Homo sapiens: one gene and its partners. The protein of the gene in region 1 purifies or fractionates together with the protein of each later gene. This does not show direct contact. Each region holds a gene or a part of one and is shown in the gene's direction. Other genes may lie near its edges. The genes, in order: CCDC117, OBSL1 and USP19.

Region 1 (3,500 bases):
CCAGAGGGCTGGGATTACAGGCATGAGCCATTGCACCCGGCCTTTTTTTGTATATTTAGTAGAGACAGGGTTTTGTGATGTTGGCCAGGCTGGTCTGGAGCTTCTGGCCTCAGGTGATCTGCCTATCTCAGCCTCCTTAAGTACTGGGATTACAAGTGTGAGCCACCACGCCCGGCCCCGAAGTATGTGCTTTTAAAGTGAATTCTTCTCATAGAACTACTGAGCGTTTTCACTTACTGCCTCTGAGTATTAATTTTGGTTTATGTGATAATTCTCTGAAATATTATTCAGATTTGATTATATGTAAAACTTTTTCGTTAAATGAAATGTTGAACAACCCTCTGAGTATAGTTTTTTTTTGTTTTGAGACGGAGTCTTGCTCTGTTGCCCACGCTGGTGTGCAATGGCACGATCTTGGTTCACTGCAACCTCCGCCTCCCGGGTTCAAGTGATTCTCCTGCCTCAGCCTCCTGAGTAGCCGGATTACAGGCATGTGTCACCACACCCGACAAATTTTTCTATTTTTAGTAGAGATAGGGTTTCACCATGTTGGCCAGGCTCTTCTCGAACTCCTAACCTCAGGTGATCTGCCCGCCTCGGCCTCCCAAAGTGCTGGGATTACAGGTGTGAGCCACCACACCCGGCCTGAGTATACCTTTTATACTCAGGTATAGCCTCATTTTTTGCTTGTTCTATTGCTGTATTACTTACTGCTTTTATCCTTTTTTATTTTTAAAATTTTGTCCAAATACTAGAATATATAATAGCTTGACTAAATATTTTTTCTTTCTTCTGCTGCCTTAATTGATTTAGGATAATTGATGAAGATGAAGAAGTTGAAGCTGACAGAAATGTTAACCATCTCCCCAGTCTTGTCCTTTCTGATACCATGAAAACAGGTTTGAAGAGGGAATTTGATGAAGTTTTTACAAAGAAAATGATTGAGTCTATGTAAGTTTTGGTACCTGATTTCTATTTAATTATGATCTTGGAGGGAAGACCCAATGTCTAGATTCTGCCCACCCTGTCCTCATTAGCTCTTTTTATCTCCTGATCCCCAGGCAATTGGAGATTGGCTTTTTCCTAGTTCATTAGGGGTGAGCAAAGTGCTTTACAAGCAGGAGTTTGAAGTATGGGGAAGTGGCTGCCTTGCCTACTTACTCTTTGGTTCCTTTGAAGACCTGAAATGGACTGCAGTCTGCTATTTGGAAATGAGATGACTGGCAAGAGAGCCCACTCTCAAGTTCCTGTGATACAGGAACCACATTTTAAAGGCTCTTGTTTACCTGGCTTTCTAAGTGACCCAGGAACAACACTGCGGCCTAGGAAAAAAAATAAAGTGGCCCAACAGTGAAAGCAGTTGCTGCAAAGACTGCAAAACAAAGCTCATATTCTTGGCTCATAGCATAGTCCTTCCAGGCCTTTAGCAGAACTGTTTTGCTCTTAATCTAAACACAGTTTATGAGCTCAGTTATCTGGTTTCCTAGATCATCAGAGTAGAAGCAGAAACAGCAAATGAGAGCAGAACAAACAAAACTCCTAACAGGGAGCTGTGACTACACTGTGAGGACAAGAGAGGAAACTGGAAAGCAAACACAATAACCTAAAAAGTAAAGTGGCCTGGGGCCCCTGAGTAATGATTAGCCCAGCTCTAATCCTGTAGTCCGTGAAGCCTCCGTGATCTCAAATTGTCATTATTCACTATGTAAAATAGTAAGGAAGTTAGTTATAAAGTGCCTAGGAAAGACTTTAGATCGAGTTGGCACTCAATAAGGGCAAGTTTCAGGTATCTGAAAAAGCCTCTTAGGACACCAGTCAGTGAGGGCAGATAGGTGAGGCATTATTACCTTTGGATACAGTGGAGATGATTTGTGCTAGAAGTTCAGCTGCTATTTGGTCTTTGATCACAGAGGTTTTGCATTAGGGTCCTATCTTGAGCTTATAATTAAGTACCCATCCCTAAGGGTGGGTAAATAGCCAGAAGTAAGCTGGTCACGTTGCCCTCCAGCCTAAAATATAGCACTTTCTGCTTTTGGTAGTTTTCCAGAAGCTAGCCTTTGAGGGTATCTCGTTTTTTTTGTTGTTGTTGTTGTTGAGATGGAGTCTCGCTCTGTTGCCCAGGCTGGAGTGCAGTGGCCTGATCTTGGCTCACTGCAAGCTCCGCCTCCCGGGTTCACGCCATTCTCCTGCTCAGCCTCCCGAGTAGCTGGGACTACAGGCGCCTGCCACCTTGCCCGGCTAGTTTTTTGTATTTTTAGTAGAGTTGGAGTTTTCACCATGTTAGCCAGGATGGTCTCGATCTCCTGACCTTGTGATCCACCCTCTTCGGCCTCCCAAAGTGCTGGGATTACAGGCGTGAGCCACCGCGCCCAGCCAAGGGTATCTCATTATTTTATGTTTTATTTTTGCTTCGTCTTTGGGCCCATACACCATCCCTGCCACAGTGTGTGTGTAACATAGTCATTTTGCCTTAACCATGAAGCTTGTTTTGTTTTGTTTTGTTTTGTGTTTTGAGACAGGGTCTCACTCTGTCACCCAGGCTGGAGTGTAGTGGCATGATCACAGCTCACCACAGCCTTGACCTCCTGGGCTCAGGTGATACTCCCACCTCAGCCTCCCGAGTAGCTGGGACTACAGTCACCTGCTACCACACCCAGCTAATTTTTGTATTTTTTGTAGAGACGGGGTTCACCACATTGCCCGGGCTGGTTGCAAACTCCTGGGCTCAAACCATCTGCCTGGCTTGGCCTCCCAAAGTGCTAGGATTACAGGCATGAGCCACTGTGCCTGGCCCATAAAGCATTATACTTTGTACCTATACTAAAAGGCATCTGAGATACTTTCAGCATGTTTGTCCAGTGTTTCCTTTTCATTTATAATGATTTAGTATGAGCTAGCTGCCTACATGTAATATTAACCACAACTTAAAAAAATTTCCAACAATCAAGGGCTCTGCGTTTTCATATTGGATTTTTAAATACTTCCAATCACAGCATCATTACAACCACTTGATTTGGTTAAATATACATGTTGAAGTGTGCAATGTTATGTATTTGAGGGGCCTTTCTAAAGATCAGTTGGAGCCAGGCATGGTGGTATGTGCCTGTAGTCCTAATTACTGGGAAGGCTGAAGTGGGTAGATTGCTTGACCCCAGGAGTTAAAGGCTGCGGTGAGCTATGACTGTACCACTGTACTCCACTGTGGACAACACAGCAAGACCCCATCTCTTAAAAAAAAAAAAAAAAAGAAAGTAAAGATCAGTTTGTGTGTTCTAAATCTCCTGTTTTGCTATCATCAGTCCTTAAGATACTAGGTAATGTTGGCTTTTCAACCTACAGCTTTTGTTTTCATGTCCTAAAATTTTTTGATAAAAGTCTGTATTTTATGTCTTAGGAGCCGTCCTTCCATGGAGCTTGTTCTCTGGAAACCCCTCCCTGAACTCCTTTCTGATAAGCCAAAGCCATCCTCTAATACTAAGAACTATACAGGAGAGAGCCAA
Region 2 (3,721 bases), on another chromosome or scaffold:
CCCAGCCTGAGGACGCCGGGGAGTATGTGTGTGAGACCCGGCATGAGGCCATCACCTTCAATGTCATCCTGGCTGGTGGGTGCTCCTGGCCAACCCAGGGCAGGGAGGCAAGGGCAAGCATGGGATGACACCTTCCTCTCTTCTCCAGAGCCTCCAGTGCAGTTCCTTGCTCTAGAGACAACTCCAAGCCCGCTCTGTGTGGCCCCTGGGGAGCCAGTGGTGCTGAGCTGTGAACTGTCCCGGGCTGGCGCCCCCGTGGTCTGGAGCCACAATGGGAGGCCCGTGCAGGAGGGCGAGGGCCTAGAGCTCCATGCCGAGGGCCCCCGCCGAGTCCTCTGCATCCAGGCTGCAGGCCCAGCCCATGCAGGGCTCTACACCTGCCAGTCTGGAGCAGCCCCCGGAGCCCCAAGCCTCAGCTTCACCGTCCAGGTGGCTGGTGAGTACAGCCTGGGCATTAAGCCTGAGAGTGGCACCAAGCCTGAGAGTGGCACCCCAAACTCTGCGGGATTCCTGCTTTTCCAGCATGCCTTGCCCATCCCTGGCCCCACTTCTCTCAGTACCTTCCCCGTCATGCCTCCCCGTGCCCTCCTCAAAGCCCTGAGCCTCTCCCTCCCAGTGACCTCCAGCTCTGACTCCACAGAGCCCCCTGTGCGGGTGGTAGCTCCCGAGGCAGCCCAGACGAGGGTTCGGAGCACCCCAGGCGGGGACCTAGAGCTGGTGGTGCACCTCTCCGGGCCAGGGGGCCCTGTACGCTGGTACAAGGACGGGGAGCGACTGGCAAGCCAGGGGCGGGTGCAGCTGGAGCAGGCCGGGGCCAGGCAGGTGCTGCGGGTGCAGGGGGCACGGAGCGGGGACGCTGGGGAGTACCTGTGCGATGCGCCCCAGGACAGCCGCATCTTCCTTGTCAGCGTGGAAGGTAACAGTGTACCCCTCACACCCTGTGGGCTGTGGCACCCCAAGGACCATCTGCCACTTTCTAGGGCCCCCTTACTCCTCCACCCCCGCTTTGCTGCTTCTGGCTCCAACCAGTGCGTGCATGACCATCACTTGGATAGGGGCTCAGGGCTCCTCTTTCCAGAAACCCTCATGTTGAGAGCAGCATAAACCAGTGGTTAAAAGCAGGGGCTCTAGAGTCCACCCAGCCAGGTTCCAGCCTAGATTCTGTGCCCCAGTAGCTGTGTGACATTGGCCAAGTTGTTCAACCTGTCTGAGCCCCGGCTCTGAAAAGAGGGGATAGTGCTTTTCTTATAGGCCTGTTGTGACAAGTAAATGCTGTAAATAGGGTCCCTGGTAATTGATATTATTAGGGTGCCACCAAGGTGGGGTGCTAGGCTAGGATTATGAGGAACTGACTAAAAGGAGTGGCAGGGAGCTGGCATCTTGTCCTTTGGGCCATCGGTGTGGTCGATACATAGTAGGTCCTCACAGAAGGTCTGTTAAATGACTGGGGACGAGGGCCTGCATCCTGAGGAGGGGATGAAAAGGAGAGAGAAGAAAAGACTCAGCCCAGCTCACTGCCTTACCGTGCCCCTTAGAGCCACTGCTGGTGAAGCTGGTCTCGGAGCTGACACCACTCACTGTCCACGAGGGCGATGATGCCACGTTCCGGTGTGAAGTCTCCCCACCAGATGCCGATGTCACCTGGCTGCGCAATGGGGCCGTCGTCACTCCAGGGCCCCAGGTGGAGATGGCCCAGAATGGTTCAAGCCGCATCTTAACCTTGCGAGGCTGCCAACTGGGGGATGCAGGGACCGTGACTTTGCGGGCAGGGAGCACGGCCACAAGTGCCCGGCTCCATGTTCGAGGTTAGGTCCTGATGAGGATGAGATACTCTGTGTCCCGTGCCTGTACTCCCAACCAGGATTCCAGCAGCCTTGCCTCTCCACCTAGGGACAGACCAGTGGGATGGAGCAAGGGGCCAGCCTCCAACCCCACCAGACTCCATGGCCTCCTTCTTCCCCACCAGAGACAGAGCTGCTGTTCCTACGGCGGTTGCAGGATGTGCGGGCAGAGGAAGGCCAGGATGTGTGTCTCGAAGTGGAGACAGGCCGAGTGGGTGCAGCGGGGGCCGTGCGCTGGGTGCGAGGTGGGCAGCCCCTGCCCCACGACTCTCGCCTGTCCATGGCCCAGGATGGGCACATCCACCGCCTCTTCATCCATGGTGTCATACTGGCCGACCAGGGCACCTACGGCTGCGAGAGCCACCACGATCGCACCCTGGCCAGGCTCAGCGTGAGGCGTGAGTGCCCCGTCCTCTCTTAATGCATTACCCACCCTACACCACAGCCTTTTCTGGCTGTCCTGGAGTCCCTCAGGCCCCCACCAAAGTGCCCCTCATCGCTGAGAAAAGTCACCCATGGCCGTCCCAGCAGCAGCTTGCCCAAAGCAAAACTTTTCTTTTTCTAATATTTTTTATTTACCTTAGAAGTCCATGTGGATTTTGCATTCCATTGCATATTTCCAAGTCGGCTTTGCTATAAACACAAATATTCTCCAGAAAGACTTGCCATGGGCATCCTTCAGGCATGTATTCTAGGGATACACATACCCACTTAAGTAGCAGGGATGGCTGTCAAACAGCACCCCACACCTCCCACCCAAAGCTGGAGCCCTCTGTTTCCTATGTGACCTCATGCAAGTTAACCTCTTTGAGCCAAGTCTCCTTAAAAATGGGGCTGAGACCAGGTGCAGTGGCTCACGCCTATAATCCTAACACTTTGGGAGGCCAAGGCAGGAGGATCCCTTGAGGCCAGGAGTTCGAGGCCATCCTGGGCAACATAGCAAGAACCCATCTCCACAAAAAAAAATAAAAATTAGCCGGGCATGGTAGTTACTAGGGAGGCTGAGGCAGAAGGATTGCTTGAACCCAGGAGGTTGAGGCTATAGTGAGCTATGATCATGTCACGGCATTCCAGCCTGGGTGACAGCAAGACCCTGTCTCAAATTTTAAAAATGGGGTTGATCCCCGTCTCAAGTGTCTCTGGGAACATTAACTGAGATAACATGAAAATTCTTACACAGAGCTTGGTGAATGGTTGTCATTTGTGACACATCTCTTCTAACTTATTTCATTCAAGAAATCATCACAATAAACCTGTGTCCCAATGTTATTCACCTTGTACAGCTGGGGCAACTGGGGTCCAGAGAGGTCAGGCCATTTGCCAAAGATCACATAGCACACAAACTATGTGGTAGAGCGAGGTTCCATTCCTAGTGTGTCTGACTCCAAATTCCGTGCTCCTTCAAGTGTCACAGCACCCCTCACCCAGACTCCACGACCCCCTAACCACACTTCTCCCCCTTCCTGTGCCCTCATCTCCTAACCCTGATACAGCCCTCCCCCCGCCAAATCTGTCCACCGTGCTCCTTTCTTCCTGCACCCTGGTTCCGAACTTTTTTGGTCAGGACCTTAGGTTGGGTGTTCAGGGGTGTAGGCAGGGCCAAGGGATGAGGATTGACTGCAACCCCTGCCCAGAGCTGGAGGCCTCATCCTCCCTCTCTCCATCTCCCCCGGCCAGCGAGGCAGCTGAGGGTGCTGCGGCCTCTGGAGGACGTGACCATCAGTGAGGGGGGCAGTGCCACCTTCCAGCTGGAGCTGTCCCAGGAAGGTGTGACCGGGGAGTGGGCCCGGGGTGGAGTACAGCTGTATCCAGGACCCAAGTGTCACATCCACTCGGACGGCCACCGTCACCGACTGGTACTCAATGGCCTGGGCCTGGCC
Region 3 (3,721 bases), on another chromosome or scaffold:
GCCATCAGAAGCCCCGGAATGGGCTCTCTGAGCATGAGCATCTTATCTCCCACTCTGTGTGCAGCTACCCAGTGCCACCTCTACATCCACAGGTCTCCATCACTTTTGACCCGTTTCTTTATCTGCCGGTGCCCTTGCCACAAAAGCAAAAGGTTCTCCCTGTCTTTTATTTTGCCCGAGAGCCCCACAGCAAGCCCATCAAGGTGAGGAGTAAGCCCCTACCCTCTGGGCTGTTCTAGAGAACGTGGCCCACCTCCCTCACTGACTGCCCTTTTTGCCACAGTTCCTGGTGAGCGTCAGCAAGGAGAACTCCACTGCGAGCGAAGTATTGGACTCCCTCTCTCAGAGTGTTCATGTGAAGCCTGAGAACCTGCGTTTGGCGGAGGTATCTTTGTCCTTCCTTGGGCTATCACATGTGTGGATGTGTGTGTGTACTCACCACAGACGTGTGTACAGTCATTGGCATCTACAGACATACACATGGGCTGGGCACAGTGGCTCATGCCTGTAGTCCCAGCACTTTGTGAGGCCGAGGTGGGCAGATCACTTGAGCCCAGGAGTTTGGGACCAGCCTGGGCAACTTGGTGAAACACTGTCTCTACAAGAAATAAAATTAGCTGGGCATGGTGGTACGTGTTATAGTCCCAGCTACTTGGGAGGCTGAGGCAAGAGGCTCACTTGAGCCCGGGATGTGGAGGTTGCAGTGAGCAGAGATTGCACCACAGCACTCCAGCCTGGGTGACAGAGTGAGACTCTGTCTCAAAAATAAATAAATAAATAGATAAAAAAATAAAAATAGGGCCAGGCGTGGTGGCTCATGCCTGTAATCCCAGCTCTTTGGGAGGCCAAGGCTGATGGATCACAAGGTCAGGAGATCCAGACCACCCTGGCTTACATGGTGAAACCCCACCTCTACTAAAAATACAGGAAAAGTTAGCCGGGCGTGGTGGCACATGTCTGTAGTCCCAGCTGCTCAGGAGGCTGAGGCAGGAGAATCGCTTGAACCTGGGAGGCAGAGGTTGCAGTGAGCCGAGATCGCGCCACTGCACTCCAGCCTGGGTGACAGAGTGAGACTCTGTCTCAAAAATAAAATAAAATAAAATAAAAATAGACATACACATGAGTATGCCTGTGACTGTACAAAAACAGGCGATGTGCTGTTATTTTTTCTGTGCAACAGAAGTGCCCTCAGTTCCTAGCCATTATCAGGGTTTATTCCCCTTTGTGGTGGTGGATCCCAACTGCATTTCCCTTTTTAGACAAGGAGCTTGAGCTGCAGGACTATCCCTATGTTCGCTCTGCCTCTCCCTCTATCCTGCTGCTCTCTCCTTTTATCCCAGTTGTGTGTGCTAGCTCTCCCCAGGGGTTCCTAGCCTTTAGCCTGACAGTGTTGGTTTTCTTAGGGGTAAGAGTGGGGAGGAGGCTCTTTGAATGTGGACCCTCCATGATAATATGTTACAGTCTTATAAGGCTATGCTAGTTATAGCAGGGCAGAGTCCCTCAGTGTGGAGAGCTGGTGTGGTTGATATCTGCCTCACACCTGGTCTTTCAGGCCCTCTGATGCACCAGGCTCCTTATGGCATTGGGCACTGAGACAGGTGCCAGCAGAGGCATAAGCCTATTTGGGCCTACAGACCTCACCACTGCCCACATAGACCCAAGGCAGGGCCAAGCCTTCTTAAACTCTGGGGCAGGGCTAGGGAAAGGGCTTATCCTCACGTGGGATCTGTGTGTTCTCTGTCCCCAGGTAATTAAGAATCGTTTTCATCGTGTGTTCCTACCCTCCCACTCACTGGACACTGTGTCCCCATCTGATACGCTCCTCTGCTTTGAGCTGCTATCCTCAGAGTTGGCTAAGGAGCGGGTAGTGGTGCTAGAGGTGCAACAGGTGAGTGGGGGCCAACCTGATGGCACAGCGCCCTGGTGGGTGGGGCACTTCTTCCTGGTCTTGCTGAGCCAGACGACCCACCCTAGCGCCCCCAGGTGCCCAGCGTCCCCATCTCCAAGTGTGCAGCCTGCCAGCGGAAGCAACAGTCGGAGGATGAAAAGCTGAAGCGCTGTACCCGGTGCTACCGTGTGGGCTACTGCAACCAGTGAGGACCCCCATGGTCTCCCCTACCCTTTCTTTCCACCTTCCATGTGCCACCCTGCTCCTTCCCTTCACACCAAGGCACATATGCTTAAGCTTTCTACTTGCCACCCTACTTTACCAGGCTCTGGGGGAGGCAGGGCTGGCGTACCCAGTTCCCAGGGACTATGACTAGCCCCCAGTATGGAGTCATAGGAGATGGGGCTAAGGGCCTATCCTTGTCTTCCTCTTCCCGTCAGGCTCTGCCAGAAAACCCACTGGCCTGACCACAAGGGCCTCTGCCGACCTGAGAACATTGGCTACCCCTTCCTGGTCAGTGTACCTGCCTCACGCCTCACTTATGCCCGCCTCGCTCAGTTGCTAGAGGGCTATGCCCGGTAAGTGCCCAGTGGTTGGACTAGAGTGGTGTAGGTGGGGGCAGAGGTGCTAGATGGGCTGGTCAGGAGTCTTACTTGCGTTGTTCTCTGTTGCCAGGTACTCTGTGAGTGTATTCCAGCCACCCTTTCAGCCAGGCCGCATGGCCTTGGAGTCTCAGAGCCCTGGCTGCACCACACTGCTCTCCACAGGTTCCCTGGAGGCTGGGGACAGCGAGAGAGACCCCATTCAGCCACCTGAGCTCCAGCTGGTGACCCCTATGGCTGAGGGGGACACAGGGCTTCCCCGGGTGTGGGCAGCCCCTGACCGGGGTCCTGTGCCCAGCACCAGTGGAATTTCTTCTGAGATGCTGGCCAGTGGGCCCATTGAGGTTGGCTCCTTGCCAGCTGGCGAGAGGGTGTCCCGACCCGAAGGTAAGATCCAGTGAAAGGCTCTAGAAGCTGGGGAGGAGGATAAGGGAGGATGGAGGGGGCTGTTGTTTAGGGCCTGGTGGGCCTGGTGAGGCCCTGATGGGCAGGGAAGCTTTGATTATCATGTTCTCACACAGCTGCTGTGCCTGGGTACCAGCATCCAAGTGAAGCTATGAATGCCCACACACCCCAGTTCTTCATCTATAAAATTGATTCATCCAACCGAGAGCAGCGGCTAGAGGACAAAGGTGTCTGAGGCTGTGGGTGGGAGCCATGGGGTGGGTTGAGCTGGCTGTTCTCCACAGCTGCATGACCTCTCTCCCTGCGAATCTCCAGGAGACACCCCACTGGAGCTGGGTGACGACTGTAGCCTGGCTCTCGTCTGGCGGAACAATGAGCGCTTGCAGGAGTTTGTGTTGGTAGCCTCCAAGGAGCTGGAATGTGCTGAGGATCCAGGCTCTGCCGGTGAGGCTGCCCGGGCCGGCCACTTCACCCTGGACCAGTGCCTCAACCTCTTCACACGGCCTGAGGTGCTGGCACCCGAGGAGGCCTGGTGAGAACAGAGCAGCAAGTAGATAAGGGGGCAGGATGGAGAAGAGAGAGACTTGCTGGTCCTGACCCAATCTCTGTCCCCACCAGGTACTGCCCACAGTGCAAACAGCACCGTGAGGCCTCCAAGCAGCTGTTGCTATGGCGCCTGCCAAATGTTCTCATCGTGCAGCTCAAGCGCTTCTCCTTTCGTAGTTTTATCTGGCGTGACAAGATCAATGACTTGGTGGAGTTCCCTGTTAGGTAAGCAGTGGACCTTGGTAACTGTGGGTGGGGTGTGAGGACCAGGATGGGCATC

What was found.
Region 2: the proteins of CCDC117 (region 1) and OBSL1 purify together in Homo sapiens (affinity purification with mass spectrometry; 2 studies listed by BioGRID and IntAct, with this or other methods). This does not show direct contact.
Region 3: the proteins of CCDC117 (region 1) and USP19 purify together in Homo sapiens (affinity purification with mass spectrometry; one large-scale study listed by BioGRID and IntAct). This does not show direct contact.

Annotation. Positions count from the first base shown.
Region 1 is NC_000022.11:28,782,695-28,786,194, forward strand, and holds part of CCDC117 (coiled-coil domain-containing protein 117), read left to right. Parts: intron 1-813; coding exon 814-951; intron 952-3,394; coding exon 3,395-3,500. UniProt on the Homo sapiens protein: Facilitates DNA repair, cell cycle progression, and cell proliferation through its interaction with CIAO2B.
Region 2 is NC_000002.12:219,554,538-219,558,258, reverse strand, and holds part of OBSL1 (obscurin-like protein 1 isoform 1 precursor), read left to right. Parts: coding exon 1-75; intron 76-148; coding exon 149-436; intron 437-640; coding exon 641-916; intron 917-1,535; coding exon 1,536-1,805; intron 1,806-1,966; coding exon 1,967-2,239; coding exon of another isoform or gene 2,240-2,262; exon of another isoform or gene 2,263-3,110; intron 3,111-3,518; coding exon 3,519-3,721. UniProt on the Homo sapiens protein: Core component of the 3M complex, a complex required to regulate microtubule dynamics and genome integrity. It is unclear how the 3M complex regulates microtubules, it could act by controlling the level of a microtubule stabilizer.
Region 3 is NC_000003.12:49,110,656-49,114,376, reverse strand, and holds part of USP19 (ubiquitin carboxyl-terminal hydrolase 19), read left to right. Parts: intron 1-92; coding exon 93-203; intron 204-283; coding exon 284-385; intron 386-1,747; coding exon 1,748-1,888; intron 1,889-1,974; coding exon 1,975-2,093; intron 2,094-2,328; coding exon 2,329-2,466; intron 2,467-2,563; coding exon 2,564-2,877; intron 2,878-3,011; coding exon 3,012-3,122; intron 3,123-3,210; coding exon 3,211-3,427; intron 3,428-3,513; coding exon 3,514-3,666; intron 3,667-3,721. UniProt on the Homo sapiens protein: Deubiquitinating enzyme that regulates the degradation of various proteins by removing ubiquitin moieties, thereby preventing their proteasomal degradation. Stabilizes RNF123, which promotes CDKN1B degradation and contributes to cell proliferation.